Linked DNA regions of Homo sapiens: region 1 is linked to region 2. The links come from fine-mapping of genetic effects on gene expression. A gene starts in region 2. The other region holds a variant in brackets. All regions are shown on one strand. Distances are from middle to middle. Region 1 holds the start of SLC36A3 (solute carrier family 36 member 3). Region 2 holds the start of GM2A (ganglioside GM2 activator).

The links. PIP is the estimated chance that this variant, and not a neighbour inherited with it, causes the effect. A credible set is the group of variants that fine-mapping cannot tell apart.
Region 1: its variant is the best candidate, but not a certain one, in a credible set for the expression of GM2A in unexposed skin (GTEx, PIP 0.62).

Annotation. Positions count from the first base shown.
Region 1 is chr5:151,296,081-151,304,417 of GRCh38, reverse strand. It overlaps SLC36A3 (solute carrier family 36 member 3), which reads left to right and starts at 652. Exons shown (of 10, transcript NM_181774.4): 1 at 652-1,191; 2 at 5,735-5,825; 3 at 8,150-8,238. The coding sequence starts at 1,064. The variant A/G (reference allele first, on the strand shown) is at 3,696.
Region 2 is chr5:151,248,664-151,257,000 of GRCh38, reverse strand. GM2A (ganglioside GM2 activator) reads right to left here and starts at 3,816. Exons shown (of 4, transcript NM_000405.5): 1 at 3,704-3,816. The coding sequence starts at 3,784. It overlaps LOC124901115 (a long non-coding RNA gene), which reads left to right and starts at 5,816. Exons shown (of 3, transcript XR_007059003.1): 1 at 5,816-6,027; 2 at 6,520-6,583; 3 at 7,322-8,337. RefSeq lists an enhancer at 612-751 and a silencer at 3,856-4,205.

The sequences.
Region 1 (8,337 bases), 47 kb before region 2:
GGCACTCTCCTGCCTCAGGACCTTTGCACTTCTTGCCCCTCTGCTAGGAGTTTCTTACCCAAGACCTACATGAGTTGTGTTCCCTCATCTTGTTCAGCCCTTTGCCCAAATGTCACTTTCTAGGTGAGGCCCTCTCTGATCACCCAATCTAAAATTGCGACCCTCCCCCTAGCTGAAACTCTCCATTACCCTTGCCTGGATTTTCTCTATACCGCTTTTTACTAACAGATACTTGATATATTTGTTTCGTTTATTGTCTGTCTCCCCCAGCCCCTCCAGATTGTAAATTCCATGAGAACAGAGATTGTAGTAAGTTTTCTACCCTAATATATTCCCAGCATGGAGAACAGTTTCTAGCATATATTAGATGCTCAATAAATATTTTCTGAACAAATGATTTTTTTTAAACATGACCTGCACTCCCTTCCAAATCACTGGCAGGCCATACGCCTCCTGTATAGAAATTCTGAGCAGGTGGCATTTGAACTGGGCCTTACAAGCCACTCTTCACCCCAAACAGGGAACATGGTAGCTGGATTATGTTCTGTTGGGCCACATCTGCATCCCAGGATTCTGCTGCAGCTCATTGGCTGGGCAGCCTCCATTGTGAGGTAGCTCTGGTTTTTTCCTTGCCAAAGACAGACAAGCACTGAGCCTGGCCCCACGTCCAGGCACCAGGACCTCCAATCCAATGGTGTCTTCTTCCTCCCAGTCACACTGTTCACTTTGCCCTACAGCAGCAAGGGCTAAACTAGGAGAGGCCAAAAGCCCAGGCAAGTCCTGGTTGGGCAAGCAATTGCGAGTGAAACTGAGGACCATCCTGACTGAGATGGGTCTTTCATAAGTCCCCCAAGAGCCAGGTGAGGCATCATCAACATCAGCCTCTCCTGCCACCACCGCTTCCCTGATTCATGCACTTCAGGCTTCAGCCAGCAGCACGCATCCTTGGGGTTAGGAGCCAGCATCTCAGGTCAGCAGCCATGGTTTCTCTGGAGAAAGACCCATCAGAGGCTCATTCAGAGCCTTAACCCTGAGCCTCTGCCACCTACCCACCGTGTTGAAGATGTCATTGCTTGGAAGGGACTACAACAGTGAGCTGAACTCCTTGGACAACGGACCTCAGTCACCCTCAGAGAGCAGCAGTAGCATTACTTCAGAGAATGTCCATCCTGCTGGAGAAGCTGGACTATCGTAAGTGGCCGCACCGCCCTTCCAGGCCTGAGGTCAAGCACTGCTGTTTTTGCAACTCTGGACTATGTCTTCCTTCATCTATCTCCTTAACACGCTTATTCCATTAACACGATATGCGTGGATAAAAGATGAAACCTTCAGAATCTAAGGAGGTCAATCCCTGTGGCTCTGGCTACTAGCCCTGTTTCCCAGTTTTTACGAAGAACCCAGCTAGAGCAGCCACCCTCAACATGAGCAGCTTGTCTCCAGGAACAGTTTCCTATCTCAGGCTGTCTGCCCTTTCCTTCCTCCCTTTCTTTCTTCCACAGTCTCTGGCTGCCTTCTTCTCCTCACACATCTGCCATTATTCTCTCTGCCTCTTCTCCCCAACCCCCCATGCCATCCATCCAGAAAACAAAAGGTGCTAACCCCATGTCTCCACCTTTACTGCCCCAAACTCAGACACATGGAACTCTTCTCTCTTTTTTTTTAATTAAATTAAATTTAATTTAATTTTAAGTTCCAGGATACATGTACAGGACATGCGGGTTTGTTACATAGGTAAACGTGTGTCATAGTGGTTTTGCTGTACCTATCAACCCATCACCTAGGTATTAAGCCCCATATACCTTAGCTATTTATCCTGATGCTCTCCCATCCCCTGCCCCCCACCCCCAACCAGCCCCAGTGTTTGTCTTGTTCTCCTCCCTGTGTCCATGTGTTCTCATTGTTCAGCTCCCACTTACAAGTGAGAACATGCAGTGTTTGGTTTTCTGTTCCTTTGTTAGTTTGCGGAGTATACTGGCTTCCGGCTCCATCCATGTCCCTGCAAAGGACATGATTTCAACAGAACTCTTCTTCTAGGACTTACTGTCAATCACACTGCTATCTGGTAATCATCAGATCGGTAACAACTGTGGGCACAAAGAGATTATCGATGACAATCCCCAGTGTTGATAAGGATATCAGGAAATGCCCTCTCTCATCTTTTGGGAAGAATTAAATTGGTATCTTTCTAGATGGCAATGTTACAGGTCAAATCGTAAAATGTCATTTGTATAAAACATACAAATATTTATTTGGCAAATGCTGTCTGAAAGTATACAACTCGTGCACACACACAAAACTGACAGCAGTGGTTGCCTCTGGGGAAGAGAATTTGGAGGCTGAGAGAAAAGAGATTTATATTTGTTTCATAAGGATTTGGATTATTGCGTTTTATCTTTTGAATTTTGTACTGTAAGTATTACAATCTAGTTCTTTAAAGTATAATGAAATATAAATAAATATACCCTTTGATTAATAATACCCCTCTAGGAATTTTTTCTGATGAAATAATAGCACAAGAGTGCATAATTTTTATCAAAGCACTTGTTATAATGTAACCACTCAATGGGTTCACCTTGCCCACTGCCTAGACAGAGACGATTTATCAAGACAGGGGAATTGCAATGGAGAAAGAGTAATTCATGCAGAATCTGCTGTGCAAGAGACTGGAGGTTTTTTTTTTTTTTTTTTAGACGGAGTCTTGCTCTATCGCCCAGGCTGGAGTGCAGTGGCGCGATCTCAGCTCACTGCAAGCTCGAGACCGGAGTTTTATTATCACTCAAATCGGTCTCCCTGAGCATTCGGGAATTAGAGTTTTTAAAGATAATTTGGTGGGTAGGAGCTTGGGAAGTGGGGAGTGCTGATTGATCAGGTTGGAGATGGAATCACAGGGGCTCGAAGTGAGTTTTTCTTGCTGTTTTCTGTTCTTGGGAGGGATGGCAGAACTGGTTGAGCCAGATGACCGGTCTGGGTGGTTTCAGATGGTCCATCAGAGTGCAGGGTCTGCAAAATAACTCAAGCACTGATCTTAGGTTTTACAATGTGATGTTATCCCCAGGAACAATGTGGGGAGGTTTAGACTCCTGGAGCCAGAGGCTGCATGACCCCTAAACTGTAATTTCCAATCTTATAGCTAATTTGTTAGTCCTGCAAAGGCAGAATGGTCCCCAGGCAAAAAGGGGGTCTTTTTGGGAAAGGGGTGATACCAATAGTCAAACCATGAAATGAATTCCTTCCCAAAGTTAGCTCAGCCTATGTCCAGGAATAAACAAGGACATCTTAAAGGTTAGAAGCAAGATGGAGTTGGTTAGGTCTGATTTCTTTCGCTGTCTTAATTTCCTCAGTTATAATTTTGCAAAGGCAGTTTCAATAATATTGAAAACTTGGAAACATTAAGAGAAAGGTTAACACATGAAACAAACATACAGTAGAATATGATACAGTCATTACAAGTGATGGAGGAAATGTATGGACATGGAAAGTGTGTAGCACATTTATTCATACAGAAAATTAGTTGAGGATCCAGCATGCATAGCGGTTCTCTTTATGTAAAATTCGGTGCATTTAGAGCAAATAAAGATGCCCAGAGGAGGGCTAATTATAATGTGTGGTTATTTTCCATTGGTGGGATTTTGGAATTTCCTTTTATAATAGCAATTGTATAGTTTTCGAGAAAAAATATAAACCCAATTTTTTAA[A/G]TCTCAGGGGAGCTTGCAACATCTATTTATGCTTCAAGGTCCAGATGGGTAAATGCTGTCAGCTAAGGCACAGTGGTTCCTCCGAAAACTTGTCTCACCTTTCCCACAATATCTGATTCAAATAGGGGCAAGACATCGATGCTGTCATGGGAAAGAAGTGAGAGACAAAGGAAAAAAGAGCAGAGGGTGGGAAATGGGACCACATCTTTTGGAGAAATTACTACTTAAGAATTGACAAATTACAGTTATCAAGAAATAAAGGTTATCTCTTGGAAGTAAAGGGACAATGGGTGCCCACCCCCCCATCCTTAGGTGAATAGACTGCCCTAACAGAAGTTAGGTCAATAGACTTCACTCAATAGACTGAAGTCACAGAAGTCCCCAACAGTTCATCTGTTCTCTCAACCCAACCCTCTCTCAGGTCAGCATTGAAATGCAAAGACCTGGTTGGTTACAGCTTCTTCCTAGCCCCTTGCCATGACTCTCTAATGGATAAGACAAAGAGATGTGAGCACTGTCTCTGCTGGACTCACTTGGGCAGTTGGTTTTGGCTCTCCTGGCCACCTGCAGACAATTTAAGTGTGGCAAGAGGGCATTCTCTGTCTTAGCCTGAGACTTCGTCTGTATCTCCCAATGGCATCTTCAAGGTACCCTTTTGTTCTTGGGTGGAGGGGGCACTTCTACTTGCTTAAACCAGCCCATGCTTGCCTTTTTCCTATCATCCCAATTCTTCTTCCTCTTGAAGGATGCGCTTTCTAACAAATGAGCACCATGAAGGCCAAACCAAAGGTGGCAGTGAGGATGATGATGATGATGAGACAATGATATGACGATGATGATGCTCACATCTGTGAAGCACTTCATGATTCCATGATTCATCATGTTGTTACCTCTTTTGAGTCTTACAGCTTCCCTGGGACATAGGCAAAACTAGAATTTTCTCCCTTTTTTGGCAGTGAAACAGGATCAAAGCAGCTAATGGCTTCCCAAAGTAGTAACCAAACACAGTAGGTTAGCGGCAGAGCTGGAACTCAGAATTAAGTGCTCCCATCTCTGGGTTCAATGCTTACGCATGTACTTTTTATTTAAGTTCCTTTTTGATTCTGTTCTCATGATCCTGTTCCCACCTTTCCCACCCAATCCACATCAGGATTGGAGCTGCCTGGGCAGGAGCTGCCAGCACAGGTGTGAAGAATATTTAGAACCCTAGGCCCTAGCACCCTGCTGGGACCATCATAAGTACTCTATATGCACAGTAACAATTGCTATTAAATTATTAAATTTTACCCAGTGCATAATGTCGATATATAGCAATTCATATATATATAATATATATATATATATATATATCACCATGCTCATCTGACTCTACTTTGCCACAATTCTCCCCACAGTCCTCCCCACTCCCTAGCATCACATGCAGCTCATTTCATATATATATATATATATATATATATAGAGAGAGAGAGAGAGAGAGAGAGAGAGAGAGAGAGAGAGCGCACAAGCAATTCATATTCACAATGAATATTGGTTGAACAAATGGATGAAGGAGTAAACTAAAACCAGTAAATATCCCATATATGGTAGATTTTTGTTTCTAGTGAGTGAGTTAATAAATAACCTGATGTCTCACTGTAGACTGAGGCAACTATTACTAATTTTTCCATTGTCTATCTAACTGATAGACATGTATTAGGTCACAATAAATGTTATTTGAGAGAATAACTCATGAAAGAAATCACTGGATGAATTAATGAACCAACCAGTACTAGAGTGTTATCCAGAATGGTAGCAATTTTTATTTCCTTTAGAGCCTAGTGTGTATTAAAGATTTGTTGAGTCACTTGAACTAGCACCATCCCCAGATCAGATGTTCCAGGACAGACCCCTAGAACTGAGAGTTGTCTCCAAGTCCACCTCATCAGGTTTTGCCCCTCTTCCTATCAGGCGCTCTGGAGATGCCAGAAGGAGGCTGAGTTTCTGGCCATGCTTCCCTTCCACTAACAGTACCCTCTGTCTCCCTACTCTCCCCACCACAGGATGATGCAAACTTTGATCCACTTGTTGAAATGCAACATTGGCACAGGGCTCCTGGGGCTTCCCCTGGCCATAAAGAATGCCGGCTTGTTGGTAAGAGGCATCTGTGGGATGGGAACTAGGTTTGCTCATTTGCAGAAGGGGGTGATAGGTCCTGAAGGCCTTCACACTGTTATCAATGGGCAATTTGGGGGTACCCTCTGCAATTGAAAATGTGCCTGTTGGCATCAATCCCCTGGAGTCAACCTGGGTCCAACCTGAGCATCCCTGAAGGGGGCACACCATTACTCTTAAAGACTCACCATGCTCATCTGACTCTACTTTGCCACAATTCTCCCCGCAGTCCTCCCCACTCCTAGGATCACATGCAGCTCATTTCGTCATTTGCATTAACAGCCCAATCCCTGCAGGCATTTGAGTGTGTGACTCCTGTTCCAAACCACTTGAGGGCGCATGAGAAAGTGTCTTGGACATGAAGATAGACGCCTCCATCAATCCCACCAATCCACTCTCCCCACACCAGCCTACCTCTTTCTCTTTTCCTGTGCTGTTCCTGCCCCCTCATTTCTGTCTTTTTAAAGTGCCTCCTCTCTAAAACTTTACACTTTCTTATGATCACTAATGCCATCCTCACTTTGTATTTTTCTACCATTTATATCTACCTTACCTGGGATTCTTAAAGCACTTACGAAGATAAGATATTTATTTATTTATTATTATTTATTGAGACAGAGTCTCGCTCTGTCGCCCAGGCTGGAGTGCAGTGGCACAATCTTGGCTCACTGCAACCTCCGCCTCCCGGGTTCAAGCGATTCTCCTGCCTCAGCCTCCCGAGTTGCTGGGATTACAGGTGTGAGCCACCACGCCCAGCTAATTTTTGTATTCTTTGTAGAGAGGTTTTCATCATGTTGGCCAGGCAGGTCTCAAACTCCTGACCTCAGGTGACTGGCCCATCTCGGCCTCGCAAGGTGCTGGGATGACAGGTGTGAGCCACCTCGTCCGGTCGACATATTTATTTTCTAACAGACCCACCTTCCTCATTTAATTGAAAGCTCTGTGGGCAAGAACTGTCTGATTTCCCTTTGCACGTCCCCACGGTAGCCTCTGTAGGGACTGGCACACAGCAAGTTTCCATTAACATCTACTGAATGGAATAGATACCAAATATATAATTCCATTTCCTTGGAGTGAATCTTTTCTTATCTCCAGGCCTGGTAAGTGGCTTCTATGTCTAAAGAAGGCGAGACCCTTGCTGCCTCTGTCATGACTTCTGATCTTCAGTGGTTCCAACCCAGAGACTGGACTCTCCCCTTTGGAATCCTCTGGGTTCTAGAGCTTCTACAAAAAAACATGGTCTTCAGCCAAACTATCTTTGCCAGGGTGGTATTTGTTTTTAAGACAATGCTTTTATTCTTTGATATTTGCTTCCTCAGAGTCATTAGATGATTTCTTTACCTTTCATCTCCCACCAGAACCTCTGGCCATGATTCATTTGAGAAATATTTATTGAGCACCTATCTACCCTGTGCATTTGTAGCCCCTGGGAATATAGAAGCAAACAAGACACGAGAGTCTCTGCTGCATGAAGCCTGCATTCCAGTGGAGTCTAGTGGTGCTCTTGATCCCTCATTTATGTCTTTGTGATAGGTCACATCTATAAAGACACAAGTGTTCAGAACAAAGGATGTGAGAGGGTCCCCGTTTATACCCTTCTGATCACCTCTGGAAGATATAATTAGTAATCAGCCCCACTTTTTAAAAGGAATTTGACAAATTAGACACACTACAGTAGTGATCCCCAACTTGGGATCATTTTGCACCAGCTCCTGCTACCCTAGCCAAAGACCTTTACAATCTCTACAGACATTTTTGGTTGCCACAATCTGGGGGAAGAGTCTCTGACACCTAGTGGGTAGAGGCTCGGGAAAGCTGCTAAACATCCTATAATGCAAAAGACAGCTCCTGATAACAAATAATTATCTGCCCCAAAATGTCAATAGGGCACCTGTTGATAAACTCTGTACTAGAGGAAGAGAACTGAGTCATAAGAACACCTTGGCCCTCAATCATCTTGGAGGAAGTGAGGGCCAGGGTGTGTCAGACAAAATAAATTTACCACAAGGGACTCTAAACTGGTAGAACTCAAGGAAAATGAGAAAATGCATGGGCTATGTGGGAAGGTAATGAGCTCTCTGTCACTGGAAGTATCCTAGCAGAAGTTGGGCAGCCACTCTACAGGGATGCTAAGAAGAGCATTCAAATTCTAGCATCTGGGAGCATGAGGACATTCAGGCTGGGTCTGTCACCCCAAAGACAGTTTTATTATGCAACAGGCCCCAGCACGCAGACTGTGAGAGGGCCAGGGAATGGGAGTGATCATTTCTGGCTCACTTCCCCCTTTCTCCTCTCCCCTCCAGGTCGGTCCTGTCAGCCTTCTGGCCATCGGGGTCCTCACCGTGCACTGCATGGTCATCCTGTTGAACTGTGCTCAACACCTCAGCCAGAGGTCAGAGGCCTGCTTCTCTCTCATTCCAGCACTGGGGCCCCTCTGAGGGTGTGTTGCTCTTCTTTTGACCACTGACCCAATTAATTCGGCCACTGCTCC
Region 2 (8,337 bases):
AATGATATCTTCTCACAGGGCTATTGTGAGGGTAAGATGTTTGTATACAGAAAGCACAGGGCACAACTCCTCAAGACTGCCAAGCTCATGAATAAACAAGGAAAGACTAAGAAGCTGTCATAGGCTGGAGGAGAGGGGGGACTACAATTATATGTGTCATGACAACAATGGCAGTGCAGTACCCTGGATTGGATCCTGGCTCAGAAAGAGGGCATTAATGGGAAAACTGGTGAAATCCAAATAAAGTCTAGAATTCAGTTAACAGTAATGTACTAATGTTGGTTTCTTAGTGTTGGAGATATGTACATATAAGATGCTAACAGGGAAAACTGAGTCAGGAGTATATAGAAACTCTATATTATCTCTGTAACTTTTCTTTTTTTTTTTTTTTTCTTGAGACAGAGTCTCACTCTGTCATCCAGGCTGGAGTGCAGCAGCGTGATCTCAGCTCACTGCAACCTCTGCCTCCTAGGTTCAAGTGATTTCTCCTGCCTCAGCCTCCCAAGTAGCTGGGACTACAGGTGTACGCCACCATGCCTGGCTAATTTTTGTATTTTTAGTATGGACAGGGTTTCACCATGTTGGCCAGGTTCAGGTTGGTCTCAAACTCCTGGCCTCAAGTGATTTGCCTGCCTTGGTCTCCCACAGTGCTGGATTATAGGGGTGAACCACCACGCCCTGCTGCAACTATTCTATAAACCTAAAATTATTCCAAATTTTTTTTTAGGAAAAAAGCACATAGCCCAGTACATAGCACATAGTATGGGTACAACAAATGACAGCCACTATACAGCACTATAGAGTCTATTAAGCACCTACTATATGACTAGCATGGGGCTAGATATCCTCCCCTGTTATCTAACACCCATCACAGCCTGTAGTCACAAGATCAGTTATGCTAGAAGAGGAACTGAAATTCAGGTTTCCTGATGTTCATTCACTGTCACCCCCCACCCCCATCTTTATCTGGCCCAGGGACTCAAGGTCAGGGCTCTGAATCACATGAGCCCCAAGAAGATGTAGGTGCTGTGTGATTTTGAGTGACCTTTATAATGTCTCAGGGCCTCTTCAAAACTGCCAATCTAAGACCTAGTCTGAGATGGCATCCATACCCACAGCATATACAACAAGTTTGTAGGGTGAGCTAGCAGCCTCTAGCCAGACTCCACCTCATAGCGGCCAGCCCTGGAGCCAAGAGAAGCATTCTCAGCCAACATTCAGGAACAAGGTATAAATTCTCCAGGCAAATGAAGTCAAAAGGTCCACGTTCCTTCATTCAACAAGCAAAACAGACTTTCTGCCTCGGGGGCAGAGTGAGGCCAAGCCCACAGATTTATATGGCTTTATTTGTTTCTGATTTTAGAAATTTTCCATCAATGAATGCATTTCCCTTCACCGACAACTCCCCGAGATGCACGTTGGCACCATCACACCCATCTTACAGATGAGGAGAACAAGACTCAGGAAATCCATGGATTGAGACAGGGGAATGATCAGAAGCCAAGCCTCCCTGCTTTCAGTATCACCCGCTTTCCCCTACACAGCACTGTTCCTCACTCTCAAACACTTCCAAGATGGTAGAAGGGAGGGGATCAGGGTTGGACCTATCCCTTTGCTACCAGAAATGTGTGATGTCTTGACCACAGCTAGCAGCCAAGAGGCAATGGAATCGGGTTTTTGTTTTTGGGGTTTTTTTGTGAGATAGGGTCTCACTCTGTCACCCAGGCTGGAATGCAGTGGTGCAATCTCAGCTGTAGCCATGACCTCCCAGGTTCAGGCGTAGCTGGGCCTCTCACCTTAGCCTCTCAAGTAGCTGGGAATACTGGCGCACACCACCACGCCCAGCTAATTTTTGTATTTTTGCAGAGATGGGGCTTCACCATGTTGCCCAGGCTGGTCTTGAACTCCTGAGCTCAAGCAATCTGTCCACCTCAGCCTCCCAAAGTCCTGGGATTACAGGTGTGCACCACCGCACCTGGTCTTGGGTTTTTTTTAAATTGACAAACCATAGTTGTATACATTTATGGGGTACACTGCAATGTGAAATGTATTCTCTTAGTTGTTTTGAAATGCACACAGTTCCTGACTTACAATGGTTTGACATACCATTTTTCAACTTTACAATCGTGCCTAAGTGATAAATATTCAGTAGAAACTGTACTTTTAGTATCCATACTGTTTTTCACTTTCAGTACAGTCTTCAGTAAATCACATGAGACATTCAACACTTTATTATGAAATAGGCTTTGTGTTAGATGATATTGCCCAACTGTAGGCTAATGTAAATGTTCTGGGCATGTTTAAGGTAGGCTAGGCATGTTTAAGGTAGGCTAGGCTATGATTCTCAGGTTAGCTGTATTAAATGCATTTTCAACTTATGATGGGTTTATCAGAACATAACCTCATGGAAAGTTAAGGAGCTTCTGTATATAATACATTACTGACGATAGTCACCCTGGTGTGCAATAAATCTCAAAGCCTATTCCTTAGCAGAACTTGGTGGCCCACACCTGCAGTCCCAGCTACTCAGGAGACTGAGGTGGGAGGACTGCTTGAGCCCAGGAGTTTAAGGCTGCAGTGAGCTACAATCGCCCCACTGCACTCCAGCCTGGGTGACAGAGTGAGACCCCACCTCTACTCTCAACTTCTGTAAGTTCAACTTGGTTAGAATCCGCATATAAATGAGATAATAAAACAGAACTACCATATGAGCCATTATCCCACTTCTGGGTATATATCCAAAGGAACTGAAATCAACATTTCGAAGGGCTATCTGCACTCCCATATTCATTGCAGCATTACTCACAATAGCTAAGATATGGAAATAACCTAAGTGTCCATCAACAGACACTTGATGGATAAAGAAATTATCCATCAACAGACACTTGATGAAGAAATTATCCATCAAATTGAATGCATAAAGAAAATGTGGCATATATACACAACAGAATACTATTCAGCCTTTAAAAGGGGGAACATCTTGTCATTTGCAACAACATAGATTGAATCTGAAAGACATTGGGCTAGCTGCAATAAGCCAGGAACGAGGCTTTTTCAGGTGAAGGGATTACAGAACTTCCCTTTCCCAGGGATCTGCAGCACGGTGTGAATGAGAAGTGAAGGAAGAAGCGGTGTCAATGAGAAGTGAAGGAGGAAGCTTGGAGGGTACGGGGACTGTTGTCTCAGTGGCTCATAACCAAGGGCAGCGGGGTCACAGGCCTGGGTATTTGTCACCAGATGGGCAAATCTGGATCCTCTGGCCTGGAAAAGCTCTCAAACCCTCCCAACTCTCAGGAAGACCTCAGGGCATTCGAGCAGGGGAAGAGATGAGGCAGCAGGCCTTATCATGGGGGACATAAGGAGTGGGGGTCAGGAGTAAGGTGCAGGGTTAACAGGACTGAATCTCTGGGGGCAATGCCTTAGTTTTAAGGCTGTCTGCATTTTCACTCCGGCGCTTGGAGGGAGGGCAGGAGAGTGCAGACGTGAGATTAATCTCTCCAAAAAGGGCCTGGAGCAGAACAAGTCTTTAGAGGCCACCCTCATTGTACAGACCAGAATCCCATAATTAGTTACTTTGGAAGGCTCTAGTGCAGAGAACCAATTCTAGAGAACGGAGTGGCCACCCCCATATCTCAGCCAGACCCGCACACCCGTAGCTGGGCCAGGAGGCTGCAAACAGACTCTTAAAAGAGGGTGCACTCACCTTTTTCAGGTGGGCTTGCGCAGGGGCCGCGAGAAGCAAGCCCAGGGCGATCAGGAGGGGAGCCTGCATCAGGGACTGCATCGGGAAGGGTGGGTCAGGGCGGAGTTAACTGCAAGGTCTGTGGCGGCAGAGGTGCCTTTAAATGCCTTCCAGTATTGGTTACGCAAAGAAGCTGAGTCCAGTCACTGGCAGGTTCGCCCTGCCCCGTCCCGGCCAGAGACTTCCCGGCCGAGAATTGGACCGATTCCTCCCGGCTCCGCCCCCTCGCTCTTTTCATTGGAGCCTGTCTCTCTAGCGTAGGTGTCAAGGCCTTCCCTCTCTGGGGCGTAGGCGGAGTTGGAAGAGAAAGGGGCGGAACTGAGCGCGGCGGGGCTGAAGGCGGCTGGAACGGAAGGGAGCTTAGCACGAGGTTGGGGCGGGATCACGAGGGCGGGGCGGAGCTGCGCGCGCGGGAGGGGCGGGGGCGTGGCGCGAGGAGGGGCCGAGCGGAGTCGGGGGCGGGGCGGAGCAGAGCTCCTGGGAAGGGCGGGGCCGGGCAGGGGATGGGGCGGAGCTGTGGTTTGTGAACTCGTGCCGGGGCCGTCACCTTTGGAAGGACCTTTGGGAAACCGCGGATTCAGTGTTTTCATCCCCAAGTCCTTCCGGACAAAAATGTCAGACTCTCTGCCATGTTACGCTTCCCCATATGTGTGTCTTTTTTTTTTTTTTTTTTGCTTTGAGACGGACTCTCGCTCTGTCGCCCGAGCTGGAGTGCAGTGGCGCGATCTCGGCTCACTGCAACCTCTGCCTCCCAGGTTCAAGCGATTCTTCCGCCTCAGCCTCTCGACTAGCTGGGACTACAGGCACGCGCCACACGCCCAGCTAATTTTTGTGTTTTTAGTAGAAACGGGGTTTCACCGTGTTGTCCAGGACGGTCTTGATCTCTTGACTTCACGAATCCGTATCTTTTTAATAATTATAACCGTTATAAAAACTAACATTTAGTAACTGCTTGAAAGCATGCTAAGGACGCACAAGGGAATGCTTTTTTTTTTTCTTCCCCAATTTTAGCACTGAGGAAACTGATACACAGTGAGGTTAGCTCTGCCAAGGTCGCACAGCTAGGAAGGAATAGAGCAAGACTTCTTTTTAGACACCCCATCAGCCAAGATTTTGTCAGGTTAATATACTAGTTGGAGATTTGCTTTTAGAAAAAACAGGGATGTTGTTACCAATACCGCCAATTTACCACAGGATTGTAAACTACACAAGGGGTGGCATCATGATGCAGGCACTCATTTATACCCAGTGCCTGATGCATAATAGACAATCTGTTGAGTACATGAATGCATGTGTAGAATTTAAAACTCACCTGATCATCTTTTTTAAAGTAAACTTTTTATTTTGGTTTACAGAAAAGTTGCAAAAATACTACAAAGTTCTGTTCGTTTCCTCTATTGTTGATAAGACACCCGTGGCCTGGCCGGGGGTTCAGACTGCAGACCCAGAGCTTGTGCTTGTGCATAACTGGGGGGCACTGCCAGCGACAAGGAGGTGGCAAAAGAATAAAAAATTAAAAAATTTTTTTTAAATCTGAGGGCATGACATTGGTACACTATTATTAACTAAGCTCCATACTTTACATAATGATCCTCCCATTCTGATCAACTCTTCCCTTTCACCTAGCCCAACTGAGGTAGGAGAATAGAGTCTGCAGGCAGGGAACCTAAGGCCATTTCACGCTGACTTCCTAGAACTAAATCGAAAGGAAAACCCTAACTTTCCACACCTAAGTAACAAGAGGACCAGAGGCTACTCTCTTTACAACCCCCCACCTTTTCTGTGCAGCAGATGGGAAATTGAAAGTACATTTCGATTTCTATGCTACATTTCAGTTTATATGTTAAAATTGCATAGAAGTGCAACTTTGTAACTTCACTTCAGCCTGATTGGTTGCTTTCCACAACCAATCAGATGTTTGCACAGGAGCATGACCTTTGTAACTTCACTTCGGCCTCTGATTAACCAGTCAGACTGATTGCGGGCCACCACTTCATTTACATGAGGTGAGCACCAAGTGGCCAATGGGAAACCTCTAGGGGGTATTTGGACCCAAGAAGATTCTGTATCTGGGCCCTTGAGCTGCTGCTTGGCCCGCTCCCACACTGTTGAGTGTACTTTCATTTTTAATAAACCCTTGCTTTTGTTCTTTCATTGCTCCATTTTTCCCTTGCTTTTCTGTGTGTTTTCTCCAATTCTTTGTTCAAAAACGCCAAGAACCTAGACAACTTTCAGTCAAAACCCTCTACTGGTAACATATTTTGGCAAGCCAGCCAGGAGAGAAGGTAGGCCCAAAGCTTGGGATTTATTTTTCTCCATTTCCCTTTTAATGCAGGGGAATTTTTCTCTCCCTCTCTCTTTTCCTTTCCAACTCGGAACCCAACTCGGTGGACAGCGCCTAAGCACAGAGGAAATTGTAAGTTTCTGGCCAGGGCCACTCTCTGGTGAGACTGAAAGGCTTCCGTGTCGAAGCACTTGACCGCCACTGCCTGGTCACTGAGAAGTCTTTTTCCTTGTTTTCATTTTTCTGAGTCCTATTCCTTTTCTTTTTTTCTCTCTTTTTTCTGAGTTCTATTCCTTTTTGTTTTTTGTTGTTTTTTGTTTGTTTGTTTTTTGCTTTTTCAGTCTTTCACTGGTCGTTTCCTAGTAGCTCCTTGGTAATTGAGGGAAACTGGCCGGGGCCACTCTCCAGTGTTCTCTGAAGGCCAAAGAGTGAACAGGGACGGCTGCCCTGCCCAGAAGGGTGAAAGACTCTTTTCTGTCCTTTCTGATTATAGATCCCTACCTGTGTCTGGGTTGGCAGCAGCAGCAGCTCATCCAGGGCAAACTCACACGTTTCAGGTGACTTAAACCTTATGCTAAATTCTTCCCTTCCCTTCCCCCACTTGACTGGCTAAGGACAGAAAACCCACCTAGCTATGCAAAAAGGTTATATGAGTCAGAGGGTCCAGGCATGTCGTAGGTGGTCTGTGTGATGCATGGGGAGTGGGGGGAATTCATGAAAGGTAATCTATTATTGCCTAAATTGAGAGAGTTAAAGGGTTGCTTTGCCGGCTGCGGTGGCTCACGCCTGTAATCCCAGCACTTTGGGAGGCCGAGGCAGGCGGATCACGAGGTCAGGAGATTGAGACCATCCTGGCTAACACGGTGAAACGCCATCTCTACTAAATATACAAAAAATTAGCCAGGCATGGTGGTCGGCGCCTGTAGTCCCAGCTACTCGGAGGCTGAGGCAGGAGAATGGCATGAACCTGGGAGGCAGAGCTTGCAGCGAGCCGAGATCATGCCACTGCACTCCAGCCTGGGCAACAGAGCAAGACCCTGTCTCAAAAAAAAAAAAAAGTTGCTTTAAGTGGCATGGGAAAACCTTAAGGAAAGTTCACAGTAGGTCTTCAGTGGTGGAGGGAACCATTCCAAAGCAATGCCTGCACCTATCTAAGGTCAGAGACATCTAACAGGCTAAGTCAGGGCCCTAATGGGGAGATGCTCCCAGGGACCCCAGTCTGGGCCCAGAATTTTTCCAGGAGGATGCCTCAGGTAAAATTTGGGTCACCTGGTCAGTCCTCTTCTCTTTTCCAGACCACTGTGGGCAACTCTCTACCTATTCCACCTGATTCCCCGCTCGGCTACGTCCTCCACCATTGCGATCAATTTGACCCTGACAATCTAAAGAGAAAACATATAATTTTTTTCTGCAGTACTGTCTGGCTCCATTATGAGCTGCCCAGCCTGGAAAAAATGGGTAGTCAATGGTAGCCTTAATTATGACATCATCCTGCAATTAGACCTATTTTGCAAGAGACAGAGCACATGGTCAGAAATCTTGTACATGCAGACTTCCATGACGCTTTACCAAAACCTAACAATCTGTGAAACTCCCAGAACCCACCCCACAAAGGAAAGTTCTAAGGGAGAACTACATATTATAGATGACCCCCTCTTACAAGGGCCACCTGTCTCTCAGAGTGAACAGTGACCACCCCCATATAGCCCCTTGCAAGTGCTCCTGAGGCTCAACCCCAGGAGCAAACACCAGAGACCCTACTAAGTCCCCCTCACATTCGGAGGGGAACCCTGTATTCAGCTCTTCTTCCAGCCCTGCTACACCTTAGGGAAGTAGCAGGAGTTGAGGGGCCAGTCCTAGTGCAGGCCCCCTTCTCTATAACTAATATTCAACAATGTAAGGAAAAGCTAGGAAGCTGTTCTGAGAATCCTAGGAAATTTGCAGATGAGTTCCACACTTTGACCTTAGCCTTTGATCTCTCATGGAGAGATGGTCAATTCATTCTAGCAACCTGTTGGCACTCCCTCAGGAAAGGAACAAATCTTTGAGGCTGCCAGCAGGGAAGTGGATGAATTATCCACCTGAAACCCTCAGGGCAATTACCGAGGCCCAGACACAGTTCCCACTACTGATCCTAATTGAAACTATAACGCCCCCATGGGAATGAACCACCTGGCTAAATTTCTTGAGGCTGTCCTTGGAGGAATGAGAAAGGGATTAACTAAGGCAGTAAATTATGATAAAGTAAGGGAGGTTACATAAGGCAAGGAGGAAAATCCAGCCATGTTTTATGGTAGGCTGGAGGAAGCCT